Homo sapiens: one gene and its partners. The protein of the gene in region 4 purifies or fractionates together with the protein of the main gene of each other region. This does not show direct contact. Each region holds a gene or a part of one and is shown on either strand. Other genes may lie near its edges. The genes, in order: DUSP9, MAP2K7, BCAP31 and PGRMC1.

What was found.
Region 1: the proteins of PGRMC1 (region 4) and DUSP9 purify together in Homo sapiens (affinity purification with mass spectrometry; 3 studies listed by BioGRID). This does not show direct contact.
Region 2: the proteins of PGRMC1 (region 4) and MAP2K7 purify together in Homo sapiens (affinity purification with mass spectrometry; 2 studies listed by BioGRID and IntAct, with this or other methods). This does not show direct contact.
Region 3: the proteins of PGRMC1 (region 4) and BCAP31 purify together in Homo sapiens (affinity purification with western blotting; 2 studies listed by BioGRID and IntAct, with this or other methods). This does not show direct contact.

The regions. Positions count from the first base shown.
Region 1 is NC_000023.11:153,642,405-153,650,224, reverse strand, and holds the start of DUSP9 (dual specificity protein phosphatase 9), read right to left. Parts: upstream 3,023-7,820; 5' UTR 2,800-3,022; intron 2,307-2,799; coding exon of another isoform or gene 2,272-2,306; coding exon 1,899-2,271; intron 994-1,898; coding exon 538-993; intron 246-537; coding exon 1-245. UniProt on the Homo sapiens protein: Inactivates MAP kinases. Has a specificity for the ERK family.
Region 2 is NC_000019.10:7,906,864-7,913,887, reverse strand, and holds part of MAP2K7 (dual specificity mitogen-activated protein kinase kinase 7), read right to left. Parts: intron 4,134-7,024; coding exon 3,992-4,133; intron 3,826-3,991; coding exon 3,759-3,825; intron 3,629-3,758; coding exon 3,515-3,628; intron 3,436-3,514; coding exon 3,316-3,435; intron 3,193-3,315; coding exon 3,085-3,192; intron 2,909-3,084; coding exon 2,729-2,908; intron 2,639-2,728; coding exon 2,558-2,638; intron 2,474-2,557; coding exon of another isoform or gene 2,453-2,473; coding exon 2,310-2,452; intron 1,740-2,309; coding exon 1,694-1,739; intron 1,592-1,693; coding exon 1,457-1,591; 3' UTR 1-1,456. UniProt on the Homo sapiens protein: Dual specificity protein kinase which acts as an essential component of the MAP kinase signal transduction pathway. Essential component of the stress-activated protein kinase/c-Jun N-terminal kinase (SAP/JNK) signaling pathway.
Region 3 is NC_000023.11:153,714,375-153,721,398, forward strand, and holds part of BCAP31 (B-cell receptor-associated protein 31), read right to left. Parts: intron 6,599-7,024; coding exon 6,498-6,598; intron 1,316-6,497; coding exon 1,168-1,315; intron 1-1,167. UniProt on the Homo sapiens protein: Functions as a chaperone protein. Is one of the most abundant endoplasmic reticulum (ER) proteins.
Region 4 is NC_000023.11:119,239,268-119,244,973, reverse strand, and holds the end of PGRMC1 (membrane-associated progesterone receptor component 1), read right to left. Parts: intron 4,666-5,706; coding exon 4,510-4,665; intron 1,824-4,509; coding exon 1,720-1,823; 3' UTR 508-1,719; downstream 1-507. UniProt on the Homo sapiens protein: Component of a progesterone-binding protein complex. Binds progesterone. Has many reported cellular functions (heme homeostasis, interaction with CYPs). Required for the maintenance of uterine histoarchitecture and normal female reproductive lifespan.

The DNA of each region.
Region 1 (7,820 bases), about 34 Mb from region 4:
CCCCCCACTGCCCTGCTCCTGCGAGTGGCGCTCCTCCAGCCGCAAGCTGCGCTCAAAGTCCAGCAACTGCCCCATGAAGTTGAAGTTGGGGGAGATGTTAGACTTCTTCCTCTTGACCAGGTCATAGGCATCGTTGAGAGAGAGGTGGAGCTTCTGCATGAGGTAGGCCACAGTGACGGTGACAGAACGGCTGACCCCCGCCAAGCAGTGGACGAGCACCCCGCAGTTCTGGGACAAGGCCTCATCTAGATGGGGCAGGAAAGGGCCCGGGAGACCCGGAGGGCAGGCGTGTGTGAGGCCGAGGCCTTCCGAAGGGCCCTCAAAGGCCCCGCCCTGCCCCCTGGGCCAGATGGCCACGACCTGCAGGTTTCTCTAGTGGCCTCTGGGGGCCGCCCTAGCTCTGCCTGTCCCCTAGAACTGTCACCTAGGCTTTTGGCTCTGGGAATGGCAGCGGGGCTTGGGAGGAGTACTCACAAGGGGGAGGCCAGAGCAGGCCTTGGGGAGGACAGGAGGGAAGGGTGGGTGGGGTGGACTCACCAATGAACTCAATGGCCTCCGGAAAGAACCGCGACAGGTTCTGGCTCCAGTGGTCGGAGATGGGGATCTGCTTGTAGTGAAAGTCACCATTCTTCTCGAAGAAGTTTGGGAGGTTGGGGGTGACATTGAGGATGTAGCGGATGCCCAGTTTGGCCAGGCTCTCCAAATTGGCGGAATCCCGGGCACTGCCCAGATAGAGGTTGGGCAGGATCTGGACAGGGAAGGATGCCCGCAGCCCCACTGGTGGGGGTGTGGCACCCTCCGAATCCAGGCCACAGCTCATGGAGTCGCGGTCAGCCTCGGATTCCGCATCAGAGCAGTCGGAGCCCAGGCACAGGCTGCCCAACCCCACCACGGGCACTGGACCGGGCACCGGCGCCATGCTGGAGCCGGCACGGCCAGCAAGGCTGGTCTCACACAGGTGAGGGCACTCGGCCTGGAATCTGCTGAAGCCTCCTGTTGGGGAGAGGGCATGGGGCCTGCTGACCTGGCCTTCTGGGCAGCCAAGTGCCTCTGTCTGGGGCTGGGGAGATGACCCTGGACAACTTGGAGGGTTTGCAAATGTTCCCAAAGGGAACACAAAACCCAGCAGCTTGGTGTGTCCTGGTACCCACGTGGGGCCCTAGCCACCCTCAGTCAGCTCGGGCTGCAAGAAGCTGGGCTCACGCTGAGCCACCGGAAAGGATCTTACACCCCTAGGGTCAAGCTGAGGCAGGTGTGAGGGCTCAACAGAGCCGAGATGCACTGCCAGCCTTAGGGAGGACTGCGGCCATCAGCTAAAGAAAAGGAGGAACTCAGATGTCAGCTCTCTGCCTGGGCATCTCCTGACTCTCAGGGATGAAGTGGGACCCCAAGATGTGGGGGAACTTGGGGGAGAATATGGCTCAAGAAGCCAGCATCTCTATTTACAGATACTATTTCCCCGGGCTGGACACCTGACACTTTATATGCTGTTCGGGAGGCTAAGGCAGGAGGATCGCTTGAGCCCAGGAGGCTTCAGTGAGCCGTGATTGCACCAGTGCTGTCTGACCCCTGCCTCCCTTGCTCATTCCTGAGCAGGTTGGGGAGGTGGGGATACCCTTGCCGAGACCCTGGGGAGCCCGCACTTTGTAATTCGTTCTTGAGCATCCTGAGAACTAGCTCAGGTCAGGCTAATTCTCCCCATTTTCCAGGCTCAGAGACTGGGCTGCCGAGGGTGAAGAACTTCCCCACGGTCACACTCAGGCTTCCCTCCTCTCAAAGCAGCCTGGCAGGTCATCAGGGGAGGGGGGCCTCAACTCGCTTTAGAAAAAAAGAAGTGGGGCTGGCCTAAGGTCAAATGAATCCCGAACCCCCTGGAAGGAGGGCCCCGCGGCACCTACCCTGGAGGTAGTAGGCCAGGTAGCCTTCCTCTCGCAGCTTCTGCAGCAGGGTGCCCAGCACCGACTCGGCCTCCCACTCCTCGGCCTCGGCCTCGGCCTCCCCGCGCCGGCGCCGGCCCCCGCCCTGGTCGTACAGGAGCACGGGGGCAGGCGGGGGCGGCTGCAGCGGCGGCCCAGGCAGGAGCGCGCGCACCGACAGGCTGCCCCTCCGCAGGCGGCGCAGCAGGAGCGCCGGCAGGGCCACGCTCAGCGCCCCACCGATGCGCGCCGACTCGTACAGCTCGCGGCTGCGGCAGTCCAGGAGCAGGAGCCGCGGCCGCGGGGGCGACAGCTCCCGACGCAGCCACAGGCACGAGCGGCCCAGACCCTCCATGGGCGATCGGCTCCCTACACGCTGGACCACGGGCGCTGCGAAGAGAGAGAAGGCGCGGTGTGAGCTACCGGAGGGCCGAGGGGGCTCAGACTTGAAGCCGGCCCCGCGTCCTGAAGGCGGGAGCCCAGGGTCCCCCACCATGAGGACTCCCAACAAGGCGCCCCAAGAAACCCCCCAGGCAGCAGCTCGGCCCGGGGAAGGGTCCTCGAGAAGAGGGCTGAGCGGCTAACCGCCCCTTCGAGGCTCATCTTGGGGTACCCTGAGGTCGCAGCCGCCTCCCTCCATACCCCCTTTCTGCTCCTGTCTCGGTCTTCTCGCGAACGCTCCCCAAGTTCGAGCTTCCGACTCTGGCTGGGGGTGTGCGTGCGAGGAGTGCCGTTCGAGGCCTAGATCTCCCCCAGGGCCAGGTGGGCCAGGGGAACAGAGGAGGCGCCGAGGTGCTGGGCCTCAGCGAGTCCTCTCAGAGGTGGTCTGGCCCCCGGTCCCCCATCTCCCCCTACCCCTAGGAGAGAACAAAAGGAAAGAGACCTGGAGCGAGATCCGGCGGTGGACGACCGCGCGTGGACGTTCTGGCCACGGCCACTGCCACGGCGGAACGCGAGGCGCCGTCCCGCGGCAGAGAGTCCCCAGGCCTGGCCGCCAGGAGAGGGCGGGGCGGCGGTGCAGGCTCGCACGTGGAAGCCGAGCCCCGCGCAGCCCGCGCAGCCCGCGCACCGGCCGCTTCCTGGCAGCCGGACCCAGCTTCCACCTTGGAAACTGCCTTCGGACGTGGAGTTACAACTCCGAGGGGCGGGCCGGGGCGGGGCTCCGGGGGCGGGCCCGGCGGGCCGGTGAGCCAACGGGTGCTAGCCGAAGCAGTCGGGTGGGACCTGCGAGTCGGCTGAGCTGGGGCTTCCACCGAGGCGGGACGGGGTCGGGGCAGAGGCCAAGGGCAGGTCAGGGGCCCAGCAGGGGACCAGCTGCGGCTCCCCTGGCCGGCGCCAGCCTGGCCTCGGGAGGCAGGGGGAGGGGTGAGGACCAGAGCCCAGCCCCTCTGCCGCAGAAGCTGCCTCCAGCCCAACTCACAGGGTGATACTGGAGCATCTTCTCCCCTGCCTGGATCTCAGTGGCCCCATCTCTGTAATGGGCTCAGAGCTAGCAGCTTGGGCAAACTTGGGATGCCACCGAAATCACGGAGGGGAGGAGGAGGCAGGACCAGAAACTTAGTGCAGCTTTGGCCCAGAGGTCTGCTGCAGGGCTAGGCAGGCAGGGGTAGCTCCTGGATACCTACCAATACCAGCCCGCTTCACTCGCACAGGACTGGCCAAAAGCACCCAGGAACCCTGAGCTCCCAGCCCTAAACTGGGGCACTCTGCTCTTATCACATTACTGATCCTAAGAGTCACCCGTGGCTCCCCCCTCTGCCTCCTTCCCTTAACCCCCCTTCGGCTAATCAAAGTGGAAAGAACTAGTTTCTACCTAAATATCTCTCACATCCACGCCTCTCTCCCCTGTCCCTTGCCCTAGCCGAGGGCTCAAATTCATCAGCTTTAGGCCAGGTCACTGTCACGTCTTGCACAACAGTCTCCCTGCCTCCGGGCCTGCAACGACCTGCCCTCCACCCTGCCCTGCCCAGCCCTGCCCAACGTCAGAATGCCATCCACTCAACCAAGGCTGGTGGCCTCCATCCTTTCCTCCATGGGCACAACAGGCGGGACAGATCCACAGGCAGCAAGAGCACTGGACAAGGTCTCAGGTGTGGTGAGCACTGAGGCAGGAGACCAGGGTCAGGGGGAGGTGTCCACAATGCTGATCTGGCTAAAAGTCCCTTCTCTGCTTAAAGCTCAACAAAAGCAAATAACAGTGTTGAAGGAAAATGTACGCCAGATAAGATAAAGCTCATACCCAACTAAAAGGTTAAGACCCCTGTAGATAAATGGGCAAAGAACCTGAAAACACTGCATACTGCAGGAAGGAGGGAATGCGGTGGCCTAACAAATATTTGGGGGAAGGTTCAACTTCAGGCGTGGAAGGAAAGCCACTCCAATAAACAAGTAACAATGACCAACGAGGTAACACTTCCCACCTACTGCATTAGAAATGTTCTCATTTTTGAGAACACGCAGTGCTGGCAAGATTGCTGTGAAATCAGCGTGCTGTTCAACTGTTGCAGGGTTATATATTGGTACGGCCCCTTTGGAAATTAATCTGGCAATATCAAGAGCTAGGAAAAAATCCCAACCCTTTGACCACTTTTGGGAATCTAAGGAACTAAAGTAAAAGAAAGCAAAGTTATGCACACGAGGATGGGCACCACAAAGCATTTTTCTAACAAGTGGAAAATGCAAAGCAAACTACGAGTCTAAAGACTCCTCTCAGGAGCCATGGAGTTAGAGGAGAAAATGTCTCAGGTCATGGTTAGGTAAGAGGGCAGGTGACGGAAAGCTAGGTGGGTCACCTCTAAGGGGCTTCCAGTTTGCCTCTCTCCCTCCCTTTCGGGCAGTGGGCTGCTAGCCGGGGACTCCCAGGACCCTGGCACTGGGCTGCTTTCCGGCCACACCCCCCATGTCCCTGCGTCTAACAAGAGTCCTAATTCCTGCATCCAAGGGCTTTGGGCAGCTGGACTGTGCCCTTCCTTCTCTCACCCAGTGGGCAAGGGCCCCAGCCCAGGCCTCCCTCCTATGCCCCCTGCCCAGATTCTGAGATTCTGCTCATTCTTCAGGCCCCCTCCTCCAGGCAGCCTTCCCAACTCGGAGCCAGTAGTCTCCCTCCTCTGTGCTCCCTAGTGTGGTCACTTTCCCCCTTTCTCAGTGTGTTCCTGGGGCAGGGACTTTGTCTTCTGTTTTCTGTCCACAGCCTAGCTCCACAGTGGTGGAGGTGGACACCGGCACCCAGCCTGGGGGCTGCCTCCAGGCCCACTGCAGCTGTGGGTGGGAGCTCAGAGTGGGCAGGGGTTGAAGGCACCACGGAGGTTCTGCCATGTGCCAGTCTTGTTGTGGAGAGTGGGGGTGGCGCAGGGCTGTGACCAGCAGGGAGCTGGACAGCCACTTCCCCGGCCCGCCCTGCCGTGGGGGCTCAGTTCGGCTAGAGAGGGAGCTCCTGAGCTGCTCAGTGGCGCTCTCTGGAGAGGGTTCCCTGGAGGTGAGAGGAGCTGGGCTGGAATGAGGACGGGGAGAGGCAACCTCCGCAATGGGGAAGGGAGGGGAAGCCTAGGATCCAAGGGTCCACGTCTCCCGACGCTTGGCGAGGGGCTCCCCTGCACCTAACTGCGGAGCCCTGCTGCCAAGTCCTCGCACCGGGAGAAAGCATTTGGGAGGAGGCCATGAGGGGCTCAATTTCCAAAGTCAGAGCTCAGTGCTCGGGGCCCACAGCGCCCGCAGCGCCAGCAACAGGACAAATGGGAACCTGTTGCCACCTCCGCACTGCAGGGCTGAGCGCAGCCAACCCCCTAATCCCCCTCTCACCCGCGACCCTCGCCGGGCCGCCCCCACTCAGGCCCCCTGTAGCGCCGGCTCTGGGCGCCGCCCCGCCGGCAGCCGCTCCCGGGTGCGCTGTGCTGGGGGAGGCCGCGCCGCGCGCCCGGGCCTCGTCTGGCCCCCTCCGGCGGGCTGAGCCAGGCCGCGCGCTCGCTGCCCGCCGCAGGGTGGGCGCTGCGCCTGCCGCCCCCGCCCCCGCCCCCGCACCCGCCCCCGCCGGGCGCCCCGGGCCTCCGCCGGGCCGGGCCAGCGCCCCCTGGAGGCCGCGGGGACGCCGCCGCCTGCAGGCCTCGCGCGCGCCGCGTGCGCCCTCTGGTCCCGGGAGCCTCCCGAGAGCGGCGCCGCGCCGCCTTCCCCCACGAGATGCACCGTTCCCGCCGGGCCGAGTGACAGGATTTCGGCTGTCGCGGCCGGGTCACATGGCCAAGAGCACAAGTCCCGGCGACAGCGTGCCTGCCAAATCCAGTGTCTTTTCCACCAAATCCACTTTCTGCTGGGGATGGCTTTCTGCTTTTCCTGGTCGGTCTCCTCGCGGGACTGGGAGTTCCTCCAAGGCAGGAACGGGTGTGTGCCCGGCCCCAGGCTGGCCCCAGCCCCCAGTGCAGGGCCTGGCACGCGCCCGGCGCTCGCGGAAGAAATGCTCGTTAACAAAGAAGGCATGAATGAATGAAACCAATTGTTGCCTGAGGGAGCTGCTCCTGCTTTTCCTTCTGCCGATCACACACTCCTCCCCCACCCCGACACGCACAAGCACACGTGCACACACAGCCCTCCCCGTAACACACACGCAGGCAGGCACCCAGACAGCGCGCGCGGACGCCAGCCCCCATGGAACCCACCTACTACGTGCTTGCCGGGCAGCTGGCGCCCCTTTGGTCCCACCTGGGCCGCCTCCATTTCAGCGCCGGGCTCTCTCCGCCGCCTCCCCGCCCCTCCCCGGGGCCCCTTGCTTCCACATCTAAGTACCCTACCTTGGACCCCAAAGTGCCTTCTTTATTTCTTAGGGAAGAGGCCAAGCTAGTCGCTGGGGAGTCTCAAGGTCTGTTTAGGGAGGCACCTGGGGGGCCCAAGGCTGCTGAGCCTCTGCCGAAGGGGAGCCAGAGGTGCCTGGCAGGGATGCCACCAAATGCTGCAGCCTCTAGAGCCCGCGTGCCAGGTGTTGGGGGTGAGGGAGGGAGGGACTCAGAGATGTGCTGGGGGGTGTCGAAGGCTATTTGTGATGGGGGCGGGGCAGGATGCTGGAGAGCGTGAATCCAGCAGGTGTGCGCGCGTGCTGGGGTGGATGAGAGTGCGCGTTGGAGATGCTGGAGGTGTGTGCCTGGGACGTGGGGAGCGTCAGCCACTGGGATGTGGGTTTCTGACGGGACCTCGCTCCAGGATGGGTGGACTGCAGTGTCTCTGGGCTGGCAACGTGGGTGGGGTGTCTGTAATGGGCAGATGGGGAGTTCGAGGTGGTGGGGGCATGGTAGGGGGAGCTATGTTGGTGCAGGTATGGCAGAGACGTGTTGGAAGCGTGCGTGTGCGCCTGGGTGTGTACTGGGGCGTGGCAGGGTCTCGGTGGGTTGGCATGAGTTGGGGACAGTGGTGAGTGGTGGGGCAGGGGCAGCTAGTGTGTGCACTACAGGCACCCGGGTCTGTGGTGCGTGGTTTGTATGCGCGCGAGTGTGCAGCCGGTGCAAGTGGCAGGAGACACGGGAGGTGCACGGGCGGCGTGCGGGGGTGTGCGGAGCAGCACCGAATGGGTGTCGTAGGGGCGCGTGCGCCGGCTTCGTGGGGTGTGCGTTGTCAGGACTTTGGGGGTGCAGGGTGGAGGAGCGCACGTCGGGGCGGGGGCAGCCAGGCCGGGTGGGGGGTGGGGGTCCCCGGGGCGCCGCTTGCTCCACTCACCTCCGCTCTGCTCGGTTCTCCGCGCCGGTTCCCTGCGTCGCGGCCGGGAAGTTTCCGAAGCTCGGGCGGCGGGAAGCGCCACTGCTGCAGCCTAACGCCACCGGAACCCCGGGTGGCGGCCTCTCCTGGAGCCGAGGGGCAGCCGCCGCCGCCGCTGCGGAGGGAAACTCCAAATCCCGCCTCCGCCGCCGCTGCCTCCTCCGCCTC
Region 2 (7,024 bases), on a different chromosome or scaffold from region 4:
GCTAAGTGAGAGGAGAGGGATGCTACGCCTACGCTGCCCCCACCACGGCCAGCCGGCTTCTGCGCCTTTGGTGTTGGATTTTCTTTGTGATTTTACGGGGTTTTGTGTTTTTTTTTTCTTGTTTTTTGTTTTGTTATTTTTTCTTGTCCACTTGATTTGCATGCAACACCCACAAAAAGGAAACACACCCCCTCCTGCTCTGGCCACCCCAGCAGGCTCCGGGGGGCACCTGGCCTGGGTCCCCGGTGCACTCACCCGGTCCTTCCCAGTCCTGGACCTCAACGTGGACTGGGCCAGGTGTGGGTGAGTGGAGGGACGGCCAGGGGCACGATGGGAGTGACCACCTCGCACCCCCACCCTCAGCCCGGCCCCCACCCCTGCTGGAGCTTGTCACACGTCCTCAAACCCCCACATCCACTCCCTCTGCCCTCCATCCCTGACTCCCTCCGGACCCCTCCCTTGGCCCCGCTCCGTCACCGATTCCCTCCGGTCACCTGCTCTGCACCATGCCCCAAGACCACCTTCCCTGAAGGCCATCCTGTGCGGCCAGGGCCCCGCAGACCCCTCCACATCCCCTGAGGTCTTCAACTCACCCCAAGCTGTGGCCCCCGGAGACCCCAGAGCAGCAGCCCCAGCCCAGCTCCCCAGTGCCCGAGGGCGGTTGGGGCCCCACCACAAGCAGCTAATCGTGACTTTGGTAAAAGTTTCTGAAGGTACCGACAACCCCACGAGAACAAGCTCTCCTCCGCCCCCACCCCAAACACCCCACCAAGTACAATAAAATACAATAAACTCCAAAAAGGACCCCCTGAGATCAAAGAGAGAGAGAGAGAGAGAGAGAGAGCGCGAGCGCGCAGCCCCGTCCAGCCGCAGTGGCAATGCCCACACTGCCTGGCTGGGGGCCACTGACTCATTGCGCCATGGGAGACCTATGCAGACCCAGGGGACCCGTCAGGAGGTGGCTGGGCCCAGGCTCAGGCCAGAAGAGAGACAGAGGCAGGGAGGGTGACGGGAGAGCCAGACAAGGACAGAGAGGTAGAGCAGGGGACAGAGGGCGACGGAAGAGGAACGGGCGCGTGGGAGTGGCGAAGGACACAGCACGCTGGGAGCGTGCATGGTGGCTGCGGGACTCCAGGGCTCTCTCCTGGCCCCTGGGGGCCGCCCCGGCCCAGAGGCTGCGGCTGAATGAACAGCGACTCTGATCGCGGCCTGCTGTCTTCCGTTCACAGTGTCTGTCGGGGGACGCACACGGCCGGCTGACCCCGGGGTGGGAAGGGCGGGGGCTTGGTAGGCCCGGGGCGGGGGGGGTGGGTGGGCACCCCCCACTCTCTGTCCTCAGTCCTAGGTGGCCGTCCAGGTCCCAGGTCTCCCCTGGCAGGCAGCTGGGTGGCCAAGTGGGGAGGGGGGCCTGTGGCCATGCCCCTGGCCCCCTGTGGGGCTGGCCGCCGCCAAGCAGCTACCTGAAGAAGGGCAGGTGGGGCTGGCTCAGGACGCCGCTAGTCCGCGGTGACTCAGTCTTCGCCATGACATCCTTGAACCAGGACGCCACGTCCACCTCCAGCGTCTCGTAGCGCTTGATGAAGCTGTGTTCCTGTGGGCCCGAGGGGGTGGGGCTTAGGAGGAGACGGTCTTCCCTCCTGGCCTCGCGCCTCCGCAGGGACAGGACGGGGACTGGGAGGGCTCAGGTACTCACAAGTAGCTTATTATACTTTGGTCTCTTCCTGTGATCTTTAGTAAGGCTAGAGCAAGAGAAGGGAAGACAGATGTGAGAACGAGGGAGGAGGGGATGCCGGCCCCACCCCTGTGCTCAGGCCCTCCCCAAGGGGCCAGGGGTCCCCAAGATGTGTGTGGGGGAAGGAGCTGTGGATGTCCTCAGGACCCCGGCTGACAGCGGGGAGCAACTGTGAGTCCCGGAGCCTCCTGGCCTAGGGCCAGGTGGCAAGGGCCTGGCTTGGGGGGCCAGAGCTGGCTGAGGTCCCCCAGAAAGGTGGGTGGGGCTCCCCTGAGAGAATCGAACATGGCCCTCCTGAACTTGTAGCTGTGCTTGTTGCAGAAGCGTGCTCACAATCTCCAACAGCCACCCCGCCAAATGCCACAGGGCTGGCTGTCCCCTCAGGCTAGGTCCAAACCCAGCTCATGGCTCCCTGGGCACCAGCTCCAGCTCCTGTGGCAGCCGCCAGCCAGGAGCCCGCCCACAGTCGCATCCGCCCATCCCAGGGTGCGGCCTCCATTCCCCTCCTGCCATTGCCTCCCCAGCTGCCCAGAGCAGCGGGCTGTCCCTGACCTCCCAAGTGGAGGGAGGTTCTCACCAGTCTTTGACGAAGGACTGGAAGTCCCCCGAGAAGCCCATGTGTCCGGGCAGAAGCGGGGGCTCTTCCTGTAGGACTTTGGTGAGGACCTCAAAGTCCGTCTTGCAGTTCTTGTAGGGAAACTGTCCTGTTGCCAGCTCCACCTGGGAGGGAGACGGGCAGGGCTGGACAGGTTTATGTTCTCCTCCCTCCGAGTCCCCCAGAAGCCCTCACTCCTGGCTGGAGAACAGGGGAGGGCCCCAACTCACCAACGAGATGCCCAGGCTCCATACGTCGGCCCGGATGTCATAGTCCGGCTTGGTGGGGTCTGGGGGGTCAATGCGCTCGGGCTGCAGGGGGGGGAGGAGAAGACGTATCTCCAAGGCTGGGGCCGGCCTCCCAGCCCCCACCCCCTCCCCCGCTGGGGGGCCCCCACTCACTGCCATGTAGGCGGCACAGCCGGCGCTCCGCGTCTTGGCTTTGGAGTCCACCAGGCGGCCGCTGATGCCGAAGTCGCAGAGCTTGATCTGGCCCCGCTCGTCCAGCAGGATGTTGGAGGGCTTGACGTCGCGGTGGATGACACCGTGCTTCTCCTTCAGGTAGTACAGCGCCTTCACAATCTGCAGGCACGCAGAGGGGGGTGCATGTGGCAGGGGGCACAGACCCAAGGCCACCTGCCCGGTGCACGCCCCACCTGGCCACTCACCGCCACTGTCATCTTGCCCAGTGCACGCCCCGCCTGGTCACTCACCGCCTCTGTCATCCTGCCCAGTGCAAGCCCCGCCTGGTCACTCACCGCCACTGTCATCTTGCCCAGAATGCGCTCGGGGATGGGGCCCTGCATCCGCTTCTTGAGCTTCTCAGCGCAGGTGCCCATGAGCTCCATGGCGATGAAGACGTCCGTCTGCAGGGAGAGGGGCACCCGGGGGAGCTGTGTCTTCCGGCCCACCCCCCAGAGGCTCTGCTCCCTAGGAAGGGGCAGGGGTGAGGGAGGAGGAGACGCTGCAGGGCGCGGCCAGGTACTCACGTTGGTGATGAACGTCCCAAAGCACTGCACGATGTAGGGGCAGTCGTGGCTCTTCAGCACCACATCCAGGTCCATGAGGATGCGCTTGTTCTCCTCCTTGTTCCCGGAGCGCCGCATTTGCTGCACAGGCAGGGACAGGAGGGAGCCTCAGCACCGGCCTGGGGTGTGGGGCGCAGCCGGGGTAGCCGCCAAGGCTCACCTTAACGGCAATGACGTGGCCGGTCTTCCGGAAGCGCATCTTCCACACCTGGCCGCAGGTGCCGCTGCCCATCTCGCCCAAGTTCTCCAGGTCGTTGATTTCTGCCTGGTAGCGCTGGGAGGAGAGGGAGGGTTGGAGGGTCCCTGGGGCCTCTGCCACCGCCCCCTGCCCCCCACTGGCGCTCCCAGGATGGGTCCAGCCTGGCTGGGCCTCCTCCCTCTCCCCGCCACAGTGAAGGTGGTACCTGGCCCCCGATGGTCAGGTAGCCCGTCTGCTTCATGATCTCCTGCAGCTTCTGGTCAATCTCAATGCTGGGGACATGGAGCAGGTGCCGGTGGAGGTGGGTCCTGACCTTAGGTTGGCCACCCCAGTCCCCCATACCGGGGTTCCCACCGGTTTAACCACCCTCCTCCCAGGGCTGGCACGGTGGCCCCTCAATGCTGCTTCCCACCCAACCCTGCTGGGCCCCTGGCTCACCTCTCCATGCTGCGGGGTGTGAACAGGGTTGACGGGAGCCCCAGCATGTGGCGGGGCCGGGCGGGGGGCGTGGGGTGCTGCGGGGAGCTCTCTGAGGATGGCGAGCGGCTGCCCCCATCGTTGGCCAGCGGGAGCTGCAGGGCTAGGGGGGTGAGAACCAGTGGCAGGGAGGGGGGTCAGCGCCCAGCTGGTGTCAGCTCCACATCTGGCACTCCAGGGAGGGGTCGGGACCCTCACCTTCCCCTCCTGGGTTTCCCGAGCTAGGCTGGCACAGCCCCCTGCCCTGCTGGGCTGGAGGAGCTGGGGTCTCCCTCCCACCCCAGACTGTTCTCAGGGTCCCTTGTCTCATCCCCTGACCTGGAAAGAGATGGAGGAGGCTAGCAGGGGAGAGGGAGCCCCAAGTCTACGCTGACGGAGAAACGAGATGGGGACCTGAGGTGTCCCTCGGCCAGGGGGCCTCCCTGACAGGTGTGTGCACTTCCTCCCACTTCTGCCCAGGAAGCAGGCCCAGGGCCACAGCACCCACAGGATGGATAGGCCAGGGCGGAGTGCCTGCCAGGGCTGGCCCAGGCTGTGGCTCTGCTGGTAGCACTGAAGTTGGCTCCCAGACAAGAGCGAGCAGGGCCACGCTGGGGAGGCAGCGGGCACGAGACCCAGGCTTCAGGCTGCCTTGCCCTATCTTCTGTTCCGGGGTCAGGGAGGGCCCCCCTCGGGCCAGTGGGCTGACATGAGGGCCTCCTGGCCTGGCCTGCAGAGCTGGGGCCCATGGGGGCAGGACAGGACCTCAGGGGGCCTGCATCCTCTGGGAGGAGAGCTCGGGGGCACAGCTCCTGCAGGGGCTGGCGGGACCAGGTGGGGCCAATGCTGGGCCAGGCGGGGGTTGGCTCATCCAGCAGCCTGCATGCGGGCAGCTCGGGCATGCTACAGCGGGTGGGCAGGCGGCGGGCAGGCAGCAGGCACCCTGGGGTGGGCAGGCGGCATTAGGGGTGGGAGGGCAGGAGACAGACAGACAGACAGGAACCAAGACTAGGGCCCAGGTGCCCAGAGGAGGCGCTGCAGAGACAGGCCAGAGAGGGGCCTGGGACAGGAGGGCAGCTTCCCGGAGGAGCTAGGGTCTCCCTGGCTGGGCTGGCAACAGGGTGCAGGAACAGAGGCCGGGATGCTAACGTGGCCTCCAGAGGAGCCAATCCTGACACGTCACATCCTAGAGGCCCTGACAACGGCTACACACACCTACCAAGGTGCCCCTCCCACAGGAGCTGGGGCCTGCCGCTCTCCAAAGCCCTCAGCCAACAAGCCCCTCTCCCCTCTTTTCCTCCTGCCTCGTCCACCTTTTCTCCCCACAGTTCTGCAGGCTCCTGGTGACTGGTGCCCAGGGACTAATATGAACAGACAAACCCGCTCCATGCTGGCAGCTAAACCCCGTCCCTCCCGTGTGCCCAGGACCCTGATCTCAGCCAGTAGGAGGGGCAGGAAGACGCCTCAGTCCCAATGCAGGAGGCCCAGCATTGCCCCTATCTGGTCCTGCCAGCCCCTGCAGGAGCTGTGCCCCCTAGCTCCCCTCCTGGAGGACCAGGCAGGAGCAGGGGAAGGGCTCTGGGGACCTTGGGACACAGCCAGGCCCAGCGTTCATGACTGGCCTAGAGGCCTCACCTCCCGTGCCCCTCCCGCTGTCCTGGCCACTGCCGCCTCTGCAGCACCACGTCACCTCCCACTGTTTTTTTTTTTTTTTGAGATAGGTTCTCGCTCTGTCACCCAGGCTGGAGTGCAGTGGCGTGATCTCAACTCACTGCAACATCCCCCTCCCAGGTTCAAGTGATTCTCCTGCCTCAGCCTCCTGAGTAGCTGGGATTATAGGTACACGCCACCACACCCAGCTAATTTTTGTCTTTTGAGTAGAGATGGGGTCTCGCTATGTTGGCCAGGCTTCTCCCTCTGCTTCTTCAGGTCCCTGCGCCTCTGCTCTGTCCATGGCCTGAGCCACAGCCCCAGTCCCCTTCTGGCTCCCGAGGGCCTGTGCTCCCCCCAACCCAGCCCCCAACCCCTGTGCACCTGGCATCTCTTGAGACACTGCCTAGTTCCCGCCCTCAGAGAGTATCCGAGTCCCGCTCACACCCTGCACTCAGCGGTTGACGACCACAGCCCTCGAGGAGTCCTGTGGGCCCCTTCCCTGACAGAGCCCACCAGGCCTTCCGAGGGTGGCCCCGGAGCCTGGGGAGGAGGCTGCCGGACCACAGACTGGAGCATGGGGGGATGGAAGGGAGGGTTCAGGTAGGCACTGGGGGAAGGAGGTACACAAAGGCCCTGAGAACAGAGGCCACAGAGGTGGTGATGGCCACATGGCAGCTCAGGAGGGTGGAGTGAGAGCAAGAGGGTGAGGATGAGAAAGAGAACGGATGAGAGAGAGCGAGAGGCTGGAGGGCACGTGTCTGCCGACAGGAGCCACAGGTGCACCGGCTGCCATGTCAACATGCACGCACATGCCGTGCAAGTGCACGCACGCACAACACACACCCGGGGCATGCCGTGGACCTAACACCCATGCAGCCGGGACAGAGTCCCCCTTGCCCTCGGACACACATACTCACAACCACTCACAGGGCCAGGCACCCCATCTACTCTCTCTCCCAACACAGGCGTGGGGCACAGCCTGCATGCCCCACACAGGCTGGCGCTGCGCTCAGAGCCCTGGCGGCCCTGTCTTCTCTCCCCCCCCAACTCCTTCAAGACGCTTTTTAAATTTTTTTTTTTTTTGAGACGGAGTCTTGCTCTGTTGCCCAGGCTGGAATGCAGTGGCGCGATCTCAGCTCACTGCAACCTCCACCTAATCTTTTATGTTTTTTTTTTTTTTGAGATGGAGTTTTGCTCTTGTTGCCCAGGCTGAAGTGCAATGGTGCGATCTCAGCTCACTGCAATCTCCGCCTCCCGGGTTCAAGCGGTTCTCCTGCCTCAGCCTCCCGAGTAGCTAGGATTACAGCCTCCCGAGTAGCTGGGATTACAGGTATGTGCCACCATGCCCGGCTAATTTTGTAT
Region 3 (7,024 bases), about 34 Mb from region 4:
CCTGAAAAATTTAGGGTATGTGTCTGACTCCTCCCAGCCTTCCTGACTTTCCTAAGTTTGAAGACAGCAAGCTTGTAGATCAAATCTGTGATCAAACCCATTATCTTGAAAAAAATGTGTTTGCCTTTTCTAGCTCCACCCCTCTTTCCAACTTGGTCGCAGAGAGTACCAGATCATCTAAACAACAGATTTTAAGACAAGTAGTCATCGTAGCGCCTAGTAAAGCAGGACACACCAGGTGACTAGAGAGCAAGAATCTCCTAGGCATGGAGATTCTTGAGTCTCGGGGCACAAAACCAAGTGGGGAATAACTGTCCATGAGCCTGAGAATCACTTGGTGCTATGGTCTGAGTGCCCTTCAAACTTCATGTGTTGGAATTTAATCCTCACTGCCGTAGCATTAAGAGGTGGGGTCTTTTGAGAAGTGATTAAGTGATGAGAGCTCCACCCTCAAAGCAAGCGCCTTTCCAATGCCTTCATACATGGTCTGAGCTCCCATCCACCTCCCAGCCAGGCCCTGCTGATCAGAACGGCTATGTGAAGCAGGAGGCAGCAAACAGGGCCCCAGGCTCAAATAGGCACTTCGTAGTGGTCTAGTTTTGCCCGACTAGTTACCCTTAGCCTTGATTAAGGTACTTAGTTTTACCAAAAAAATCATCAGAAATACTCTGGCTGCCATGGAATGTAACATGTCCTCATTACGAGTTTCACGTGGGGAAGGCCCTGAGGTGAGGAGAGGCCCAGCCTCTTCGTGCCACTTTTACCTGCTGTCCCTAGGTCAACACCCCGGACACAAAGAGTCCCCCATTCAGTCGCTCCCTTGTGAGCTGGACTCTGAAGGTCCTCTCCCAGAGGAGGGCAAGGCCTTACCGTTACATCTCACTCTCCATGCAAACAGACCGTGAGATAGTCATCTGTTTGCCTGAGAGTATGTGGTGTGTGAGGGTCTTCTGATATTTCAGGCAGCCCTCTCCTACTCTCCACGCTGCCTCTGGAGGTCAGGAGAAAACTATGTGGCTTCCCTAACACAGACAGGGCTTTGGGATCCAGGCCACAGACTGAGGAGGAATCAAAGTCACAGGGGGGAGACTGAGCCCACTGAGCTCGGTGTCCATGGCTAGCCCATGGCTCCTTTCACAGCACCTGCCCCCTCAACCCCCCACTCACAAGGACAGCAGCAAGGAAAAGCCAGCAATGTAGAGATTCCTCTGGGCACGGAAAAGCTTCATGTGGAAGTGCTCCATGGCCCCGGGATTGTTCTGGAGGTTCACCTTTTCCGTCACATCATCATACTTCCGAATTTCGCGCACGGCATCTGTGGTGGAGCAGAGAGGAGACACGGGCATTTAGCGGACACTAGGGCAAGATAAGGCCATACCAGGCAGACAGGCGGCATGAGACAGGTCAGACTCACTTCCCTCAAATCCGCCTCCCCAGTTCTTCCCACTTCTATGCACATACACCCCTCATGGGATGCTGTTATCAGAAGCTCCCACCCTCAGGCCAGGTGCAGTGGCTCACGCCTATAATCTCAGCACTTTGGGAGGCAGAGGCGGGCAGATCACCTGAGGTCAGGAGTTCGAGACAAGCCTGGCCAACATGGCAAAACCCCATCTCTACTAAAAATACAAAAAAAAAAAATTTAGCCCGGCGTGGTGGTGGGCGCCTGTAATCCCAGCTACTCGGGAGGCTGAGGCAAAAGAATCATTTGAACCCGGGAGGCGGAGGTTGCAGTGAGCCGAAATTGAGCCACTGCACTCCAGACCGGGGGACAAGAGCGAAACTCCATCTCAAAAAAAAAAAAAAGGAAGCTCCCACCCTCAGACCCACTCCTTCCTCCAGCTTTTCAATCCCTGGCCCCATTCTACACAGGCCCCAGGCTTGCTCTGCAGTTCACGATGCTAACCAAGCCTAAAGAGTTTCTGGAAATGGGGGTGGCTTCCTTTTCCCATGGTACCCTCACCGCGTCTTGTTCTGTTCATCTCAAGTTGGCCCATAGCCCCCCAACCCCCACAATGATAAGTTGAACCTGGAGATGGAAATGCCTGCTCCGGGGACCTAAGGTGCTTAAGAGTCAAGACCCAGGCCAGATGTGGTGGCTCACGCCTGTAATCCCAACACTTTGGGAGGCCAAGGCAGGAAGACTGCTTGAGGCCAACGAGTTCAAGACCAGCCTGGGCAACACAGGGAGACTCTCTCTCAACAAAAAAAAAAAAAAAAAAAAAAAAAATTTTAAATAGCTGGGCATGGTGCTGCACACCTGTAGTCCCAGCTACTCGGGAGGCTGAGACAGGAAGATCGCTTGAGCCCAAGAGGTCAAGGCTGCTGTGAGTTACGATCACACCACTGCATTCCAGCCTGGGCGACAGAGCGAGACTCTGTCTCGAAAAAGCCAAAACAAAACAAGCAAACAAACAAAAAAATAGGAGTCAAGACCTGCAGGATACCAGCTAGGAGTCAAGGGTTTCATTTCAAAGCTTTACAATGGGTTTTATTATCTATAATGTTTTATTCTGATTACGAAAGGAATTCACACTCATCGAAAGTTCAAACACACCCAAAATGTAGAAACGGAAAGGATCCCATAACATAATCACATCTAGCAGTATATACAATAAAAATGTGGTCACATCTAAAGTCATTTTTAGTCACATTACACTGTTACCTGCTTCGTAATAGACATCCATCTCTGAAATTCTCTTTAAACACATTTTTTGGGTCCATCTCTCCCAAAGTAGACTACAAACTTCATAAGAGCAGAAATCTTTTATACTATATTCCCAGGGCCTGGGATAGCTCTGGGTGCAGAGTGGGCACTGAAATAATTGCTGAGTCAGTGAGCAGCCTCTGCTCCTGAAAGAGCCGCTGTTAGACATATAGAGCTCCAGTTAAAAATATATTTATATTTGTCTCTAATGTAGAAATTGAGCCACGCCAAACCTACTGCTTTTCCCCATGCATCCTGAGACATCGTTTTAAGTCAATACACTAAGATGTACCCAAAGAATGCTCTTAATAGACTCCCATATGAGAGGAGCAAGGTATCACTGTATGGGTATCGAGGTTCTTTTTGTATGGTGGGTTACAGGGTCTCACTCTGTCACCCAGGCTTGAGTGCAGTGGCACGATCCCAGCTCACTGCAACCTCCACCTCTCAGCCTCCCCAGTAACTGGGACCACAAGTGTGTGCTACCACACTCAGTTAATTTTTTCTTTTTCTATTTTTGGTAGAGACGGGGTTTCGCCATGTTGCCCAGGCTAGTTTCAAACTCCTGAGCGCAAGCAACTGCCTCAGCCTCACAAAGTGTGGGGATTACAGGCGTGAGTCAGGGCACTGGCCTCATGGGGTTCTTAATTTCCGGTTTTAGGCTGCTTAGTTTTTATGTTGATCTTGCATTATAAAAATCTGCCCATCCCTCAGCACCACGAAGCGAGTACTCTCAAACGCTGTTAGCAGGGGTAAAAACAGCACACCTGTATAAAATGCAAAATGTTCATACCCTCGGGTTCAACAATTCACCTCTGAAATTATCCCACAGAAGTATTTGCATAAATTTGCAATGATTCGAAGATGCTTATAAAGAATGGATTACGGCACAACCACATGAGAGAATACTACATGATCTTTAAGAAGAATGAGATTGCTATAAAAAGATGTTGGCCGGACACAGTGGCTCATGCCTGTAATTTCAGCACTTTGGGAGGCCGAGGTGGGCGGATCACTTGAGGCCAGGAGTTCAAGACCAGCCTGGCCAACACGGTGAAACCTCGTCTCTACTAAAAATACAAAAAATTAGCCGGGCATGGTGGCGGGCGCCTGTAACCTGCAGCTACTCGGAAGCTGAGGCAGGGGAAATCGCTTGAACCTGGGAGGCGGAGGTTGCAGTGAGCCAAGATGGCGCCACTGCACTGCAGTCTGGGCAACAAAGTGAGATTCCATCTCAAAAAAAAAAAAAAAAAAAAAAGATGTCTAACGTGCAGCAGGTAGAAAAAGCACAATCCAAAGTATTGGCTAGGCTCTGCTATGGACAGCAGTCTTATCTCAGAGCTGTGCTACCAGCTCAGGCGTGGAATGCTCCTCCTGCCATGTCCCAGCAGGAATGTGGAAAGAAACATAAATACTTTGTGTGTATGATCCCACCGTTGTAGACATTTTATTAAAGATGTCAGCATACAAAACCCCTCTGGAAATGCACAACAAAATACTCATGATGGTTACCTGTGGGAAATGGGATTATGGGGAGTTTAACTTTCTAAATTCAACTTTTGAATTTTTAAGAATAATTACCCATTATTTTTGTAATCAGAAAAACAAGATAAACATGTTTCCTTACACTGTCACCTGCATCCAGGAACCCCACCATCCTAAGGACCACCTTGGCCAATGACCAATAGTGGGGATGGGGGACTGAGCAATACTAACCCAAGTCCCACAGTAGAAACCAGCCCTCCCTGTCTCGGGCCTCAGCCCAGGTGGGAAGATCCTGCACCCTCAGCAACTCCATCCTCCAGGAGGATCTGCTCAACCCTCCCCACCCCCAAGCAAGGCCACAGCTCTAGCTAGTTATGCCCCTTACCCTTCACTAGTACCTGTGACTAACACTTCTGTTTGAAGAAGGCTCTGCAGATCTTTCTAGATTATGCTTCTTAACATGGGAGTAGGAAGCAGCCAGTCATCATGGCCATATGTCCCCCTAGAACTTCCAAGCAGTTCCCCGATCCCAAAAAAGAATGAAGGCTTTGTCAACTACTGGATTCCGCAAAGGATCTCTCCAGCCCACTCAGCTGCTCTAGGAAAGAAACATACTCCTTCTGGTTTGGGGAAGGGGCAAGACCCTGAGGGAATCATCCTCAGCATGGTCCCTCCCCTCCCCAGTTATTACCCCCACCCCAGACCCAAAAGCCAAAACACACATGCTCAGTTCAAAAACTCAGTGGCCTGGGGATGACACATATATTACCTACCTACTCCTGGCTTGGAGGCTGCTCAGGGCGAGAACCCTGGTTAGAAAGAGCTACTACCTCTTGGGGCCTTGCCAAGTATTTCAAGAACACTGAGGTGCTCAGGCAGCTGGCACCTACCCTATGTGGTTGGAAGCTGTCAGGTAACACTTGGCCTGTTCAGAGGCAGTCCAGCCTGAACATATCCTATCAGGCTCTGAGACATCAGGAAGGAGAAATGCCTAATGCTGAAGCTGGTGGGTGAGGCTTTGCACATTCCCCTGAACCACAGCCCCCCACCCGCTCAGTGTTTCTGCTGGGACTCGGTGGGAGGAGTGTTCCACGCCTAGGCAGGCACCACAGCTCTGAGACAAGAGTGGTGTCCACAGCAGAGCCAAGCCAATACTTTGGAGCCCAAACAGGGGGACATATCGATCACTTACCACAGCAAAACAACAAACATCTACCAGTCAGACAAGAGCTTTATTGATTCTTGTCTCCAGATGGTCACCCTACCACCTCATTGCAAAATGTCTGCCTTTCATCTTACCACCACCTGGCCTGGCCTTATCCCAGAGCCTGCTTGCCCTTGGACCAGTTTATCTTTCAAGCACCTGCTAGTGTACACCTCAATGTCAGAGTTTACAGAACTACAGAGCTGGAACGACCTGGGAAAACCTCAAGTCTAGCCCAGATGCAGAGAGGTCTAGGATCTCTCCCCAAGATATGCTGCCACACATCTCTGTGTTCTCCTCCTACTACTACAGGGAATGGCAGGACTTCACTGTGTGCTTGGTTGCTCAGTCCCCCATTAGAGGCCCTGCTCCAGGCAATTCTGCTGTTTAAGTGACTGGTGAGCAGCACTACTCAGACCAAGGTCACAGGCCAGTTAGCTTCTCTTGGCTTCAGTTCTAGAGTGACCTGAGGAGCAGCCTCAGAAACCTTAGGCGTCCCTCCTTCCAAGGTCTTGAAAAAAAGCAATGTAAGGTGGCCGTCATAAGCTGCATACAAACTGCTTGGTATAAGCCCACGCCCACTGCTAGAGGGGCCTCTTTTTTTTTTTTTTGAGATGGAGTCTCCCTCTTGTTGCCCAGGCTGGAGTGCAATGGTGCGATTTAGGCTCACTGCAACCTCTGCCTCGTGGGTTCAAGCAATTCTCCTGCCTCAGTCTCCCAAGTAGCTGGGATTACAGGTGCCCGCCACCACGCCCAGCTAATTTTGTATTTTTCGTAGAGATGGGGTTTCACCACGTTGGCCAGGCTGATCTCGAACTCCTCATCTCAGGTGATCCACCGACCTCAGCCTCCCAAAGTGCTGGGATTACAGGCATGAGCCACCATGTACGGCCTAGAGGGGCCTCAAAGTGAAGAACCGACTAGCGGTCAGCAGCATGGGCAAAGGGAGCCTCTTCCCTCCCTCAAGAGAAAGACACAGCATTTCATTGGTCTGTCTCCTAGCAGCCAAAACTGGATGCTACACATCAAAAGTGGCAAAGGGTTTTGCAGCAGAGACCAGGGTCTAGGTCAGGTAGCTGCCCTCAGCCATAGCTCACTCACCGATGACCAACAGCACAAGGATGACAATGAGAACCACAAAGAAGGTGTTGCCATAGGACACTAACAACTCCACCAGCCGGGACTTGAAAATCTTCTGCCATCTGTGAAGAAGACAAAAAGGACAGGAGTTGAAGAGAAAGCACACACACGAGCTCTAGGGCCCTGAGCAAAATGGAAATCCAGCTTTGTACTCTTCTCCAATGGCCGAATAGCCCATGCAAAGTCAGCCTCAGTGGCTTGCAATTCTCTAATTTGACATCCATTCAAGACTATTGGAAAAAAGGCCAGGTGCAATGGCTCACACCTGTAATCTCAGCACTTTGGGAGACCAAGGTGGGTGGATCACTTGAGGTCAGGAGTGCAAGACCAAACTGGCCAACATGGCGAAACCCTGTCTCTACTAAAAGTACGAAAATTAGCCAGGCGTGGTGGTGGGCACCTGTAATCCCAGCTACTCAGGAGGGTGAGGCAGGAGAATCACTTGAACCTGGGAGGCGGAAGTTGCAGTGAGCCGAGATCGCGCCACT
Region 4 (5,706 bases):
TAAAATGACAAAACACTAATAGGTTGTCTTTGTTTATACAACTGACTGCATATGCAAATCTGTTATGCTTCTTTTGACACGAGGTGAATTAACTTTGCTACTGTAAGGATTCCTGATACTTTCCTGATCAGACAATACATTAACACAAAAAAACCCAAACCCTTCCTTAGCACTTGGCAATGACAATGCCTTCAGTAACCTTACTTCTTAAGAACCTTGCTATAGACTTCAAGGTGGAGGTCTGCCATTTACAGTTTAGAAAGTTCTGATTTAGGCAAAACTTTGACAAGTCACAAAAAAAGCAATTCAATTCACTATTTCTTAAACAGGACAAGCTGGTATTTGGTTTTTGGTGTGGGGTCTCCATGAAATTTTGCCCCTTGTTTCTTTTGGAATACAAAAACTCTGCACTCAAAAATGAAACTGAATTTTAAGCCAAAGTAAAATGTCTGAATCAGATTCCCTAGAATAAGGTTTTTAAAAAAATTTAAATAAGTCACCACACTATAGTGGGTAAAACCATTTTTATTAACTGACCAAAGCACATCATTTTGTTTTCTGATTTGAGGTAAAATCATAAAACACAGTTCACAAGAAAATACAATGACTATTTAACCACAATTACAAGTTTGAAATCTCACTAGGTGTTCATATACTTTTACAAATTCATACAACTGTATAGTCTACTTAAGCTTAGTGTTAACCAAAAGAGCAATATCAAAGACCTAGACACTTGACTACTACTTTTGCAGTGGGTATAGTTTTATAACAACAGAATAACTGTTACCTTATGAATATACTTTACTTTAAAAACCACTTGACTAGCGACTGTACTGTTTCCTCGTGGTTCAGGGGTGTGCATGAAGGCTCTTAGGAGAGCAAACACCTGTTCCTATTCTGTATGTCCCTCCCTCATTTCAAATGAGAGTAACCAATTGAGTAAAATAACCAAATAACCATTGCCCCACCATGAACATGGGGCTTGGGAAGACAGTCCTACAATCTTCATCATATATTTAGGTTTTTAGGCCAGCCAGCTCTTTTTTTCCAAAGCTTTCTTTTGAATGTTCAGATCCTATTTTAATCCTAACTATAGACTACTGTGTTTGTGAGGGTGTCTGAGTGTCTATGTGAGGGCAAGGACAACAGTGCAGTCCAGAAACACAGAAAATATGCTTTTTTGCAGCTGAGCTCTGTTTTGAGATTTCATTTTGTTACTGGACAGCGCTTAATCCATACCAAAGTCTTTGGAACACTGCAGATTTGCTTTAGAGGTAGATAAAACAGAAATCATGCAGTTAAGTCAATTGAGAAAAAAAAAGGGATTTGTTGTCTTTACAGAACATCATGACTAAAAGTTGATCCTTTGCTCTTGGTGCACATTTAAGATTTTTACCTGTTTTGGGAAATACCCAAGTCTTCCTTGTCTCTCAGGAAAAACACATTTAAATTCATCCTGTACTAACTACAGATAGAAGAAAAACAGTATTAACATGTGTATTACAGCACTGCAGTTCACTTTCTGGATTTGTGACACACAAACACATCATGCATTCTAAGAAGTTAATTTTATTAGTGTCACTAGTGATGTTAATTAAAAAACTTATAGCAAGTGCTCAAAACTTTCTAAATATTGTAATCACTATGTTTTAAAGACAGAGTGGACTGTTACAAATGATTTTGCAAAATACAAAAATAGATATACTTCCACTGAATGCTTTAATCATTTTTCCGGGCACTCTCATCTTTTGGTTCTTCCTCATCTGAGTACACAGTGGGCTCCTCCCCCTCCTTCAGCAGTTTGCCCACGTGATGATACTTGACTGGAGGTAGAGAAGAAAACACAAATGGTCATTCTCATTCTTTCTAAAACATCATTACCACGTTTCAATTTAAAGCATTTATTAGAGGCCTGCAATATACTCAGCAATGTGTTGGGCTTCTTGAAGGATACAAAGGTGGTTTATACCACCGTCCTTGCCAACAGGGAATTTGTTTTGTTCAGAAGACAGACATATAAAACAGGTGGCAACGTCTGGCAATGAGTGTGCAAGGTAACGTCAAAATGAATTGTTTGTGTGTAAGGAATGTTTAGAAGAACAAGGGCAAGTGATGAGTTCATCAGAAGGGTTACAGAATACTTCATGGAAGGAGGATATATTTTGGAAAAATGTATAGAAGGATTTAGGGAGGGAGTTCCAGAAAATGCAAACGCCATGTACAAATGCATACAGGTGAGACAACGTATCTGGGAAGCAATGAAGAGACCAAGTTGGCAGGAGTAGAGTTAACATTTAGAAGTTAGTAGGAGATAAGATTGGCTAAGTAGTGTGGGGAAATATTATGAAAGATCTGAAAAGCCAGCCTGAGTTTGGACTTATAGGTGGCAAAGGGCACTGAAGGTTTATAAGCGAAGGAATGACACAGTAAAATAGTGCTTTAACAACGATATTATCAATGTGGTGTATAGGGCAGATTTCAGTAAGGAGAGACTGGGAACAGGGCGATCCAGAGGCAGAGTGCAGATCCAGATGCAAAGGAACCAGCGCCAGGAGCAGGGTGGTGTCCAGGGGAATGGAAAGGGACAGATGAGAAGTACTTTGAAAGAAAACTGGAAGCATGAATTAATTAAGTGAAAATTGGAGCTCCCATGGACCAAAATGGGAACTCTGTGGAGGGAGCCATTCTGGAGGCTCACATGACAGGAGATCTAAAACATGGAATGGACAAGTGAAGTCAGGATTGGCAAGAAAAAAAAAAAAGGTTTCCCTGAAAATCTTTCAGAAAGAGAGTTCAATCCAATTGTGGGGATAGAAGCCATATTGTAGGGAGGAAGAAGGTATAGAGAGGAAATGAAGTAGTGGTTAGGAATAAAAACTTGTAAGAAGTTTGTTTGACAGTGAAAGGAAGGAATAATAGTCTCATAGATGAAGAGGAGAGCAAGAGACAGAACGTTTTTCCCAGCACAGAGAAAAACCTATGGGTGGTTAAAGGAAGTGGTAAAGGAGCCAGGAGATGACTGGAGGTGTTGGAGAAAACAGATGTAAGGGTGCAAACCAGAATGCAAAAGACTTGAGAAGAGATGGCATCAGCAAACCACCTCATCACTGTAGCCAAACTAATGCAGGGTCGATCATCTGAATGTCCAAAGCCAAGAGTCTCCTCTTCCTGAATATGAGTAGGAATTAGAGGAGTAACCAACCTGTCTAACCAGGTAACTAAAGCTGCTTTTGTGTGAAATAACCGTTGGGAACAATTGGAACTGTGTGAGACAAATAAAAGCCAGGTGGCTCCTGGGAAACCTGCCTTAAGGGGAATCCACACCAACTTTAAGTGTAGCTGAGGTGTCACAACAGCATCTGGGGCTAGCCTTAAAGTGGAAAAAAAAAATCACACTTTTTCTCCCACTGATGAAGGCAAGCCCTAGAAAATAGAGCTTTGTAAGTTAGACACTACAATTCACTGGTTTCATATAGAAAACTAATTACAAAGGCATCCTTATGATGCCAAAAATTAGGGACTCTATTAGGTAACTGAACTATGTTTTCCAAAGTATAAAAACTTGCCTCTAGACTTGGAAGTTATATGTAGCCTGCTTGAGACCAAAACTCAAAGGCAGAGACACATCTGGCTAATTATTAATCCAGAACTCTCTCTGAAGTCAGCATTATTTTCAAAGAAAATGGTTGGATATAGCCAAGAGAACATGTAATATTTAACTGATTATAGAGAACACACATAGAAAACTACATTTTAAATGAAAAATCTTCAAATAATGCTCATGGTCTTTATATACTGTTTCATAAAAGCTGGGAAAGACTCTTATTCAAATTCTTGGCAGTGAAATATTGCTAGAGTGACAATTAAACAGTTAGATTTGACAGAAACCAATTCCTGAATTCTCAAAATCTGAACTTAACCCCTCATTCCTATTTCTCCCCAAAGACCTCAGCCCATAGCATAAGCCAGAAACAAGCATCTCCTTTTTACTTTCTTTTTAAAAATGCAGACACCATTGCTGCTGGGCACATTATAAGCATCATTTGTAGATGAGGCCTATAGTTAGGTTCAATTAGATTCAAAGAGAAGCTGTTTCACAGAATACAAGTCTCCCATTCTTCAACAGAGATGTGGGCTGCTTTTAAACGGCAAGCTCTACAAGAGAGGGCTTATGAAAATCCCTTTCTGTAGCCAAGATGGACACTGTCCTTTCCCTGACACACCAAGCACCAAATCCTCATTTGGAATCTAGCAAATCTCTCAAAAATTTTAAAATCAAAACCAGAAACCCAAGTTTCCATAGAGAACTGGCTAAAAATTGGTATGCAATCATAGCAAGTGACTCAGCACTGCTACAATTACTTCAAGCCATGAACTTGATGCGTCCAAGATTAAGGAGCCTATCAAAATGCACCCAAGTTTCAGGCTGCTTAGTAATAACTATTGTCCTGCCACGAATCCCCATTACTGGTAGAAATTTGACCCAGACACAATTTTAAAAATGCTTACAAGTGAACTGAGACTCCCAGTCACTCAGAGTCTCCTGCTGGGCAGCAGTGAGGTCAGAAAGGTCATCGTACTCATCCTTCAGTGCTTCCTTATCCAGGCAAAATGTGGCAAGGCCCCTGGATGCATCTCTTCCAGCAAAGACCCCATACGGCCCCTCTTCAAAAACAAAACCAAAGATCAATTCTTTATTAGACAGTCAATTTCTCTGTGATTTATACACAGAAAATGGCTTCCCTATTCATCAACATAGCCCCATTTTTGAATATCAAATTCCATTAGGAAACCATAGTAATGCTGATATTCTGAACATTATGTAGGAGACACAGAAAGACCTGTTGTCATTTAACTTTTAAATAACTAAAAGTAAATCAAACTGCTATACATTTGCGTCAGTCTCCTGTGGTTTCCAAATAGCTAGTAAAAAAGTCATACGTGGTTAGTGATCTCTTGGGGTAGTGGTAGTAGGGAATCATACAAGAACATTGAACTGGGAGCCTGACAGTTCTAGGCACTTGGGGCTACACCAGTGAGAGTTATGGTTTCTTAAGATAATAAGCACTGATGTGTACATGAAAACACATTTCCTTATGAATATATTCTGATATGTTTTAATGAAACAAAGGTATCTTATAGAGATCTTTGGTTCCAAGGCTCAATTAAACATTAACTCATGGCATCTGCAGAAGAACCATTTTATAACAGTATCGGTGGTTTAAAAATCTATCCACATTACATAACCTTCACTGTCAATAAATAGATAACACAGAGATCAGTCTTCATTATCTGTTTTTTGGTGGGCTTGAGAAGACTGTGAAAATACTAAAATTTTCATGGAAAAGAGGCTGAATCAATACTGCAAAACAACTCTATAAAACAACTCTATAAAATGTGATTATTTGTGATATTATACTGAACTTTTGTCTAAGAGAGCAGAGAATCATTCTGTGGGTACACAAAGTGGATATTTAGACTTATTTAAATATTGCACAACTAAATGAAGAGAATCCAGTGTACTTTAAACAATGTGTTGTTTCCCCCAAGGCAGATTGAATAGCAGCCCTGACATTAAAATGTTTGTAGGGAACCAAGTATGAGAATAGATCAAGTTTCAATATGGCCTGTTCACCTGAAACCTCAATACACTCAGAAATTTTTTACAAATTTTACAACTTTTAAATGCAAGTAAAATTCCAAAGA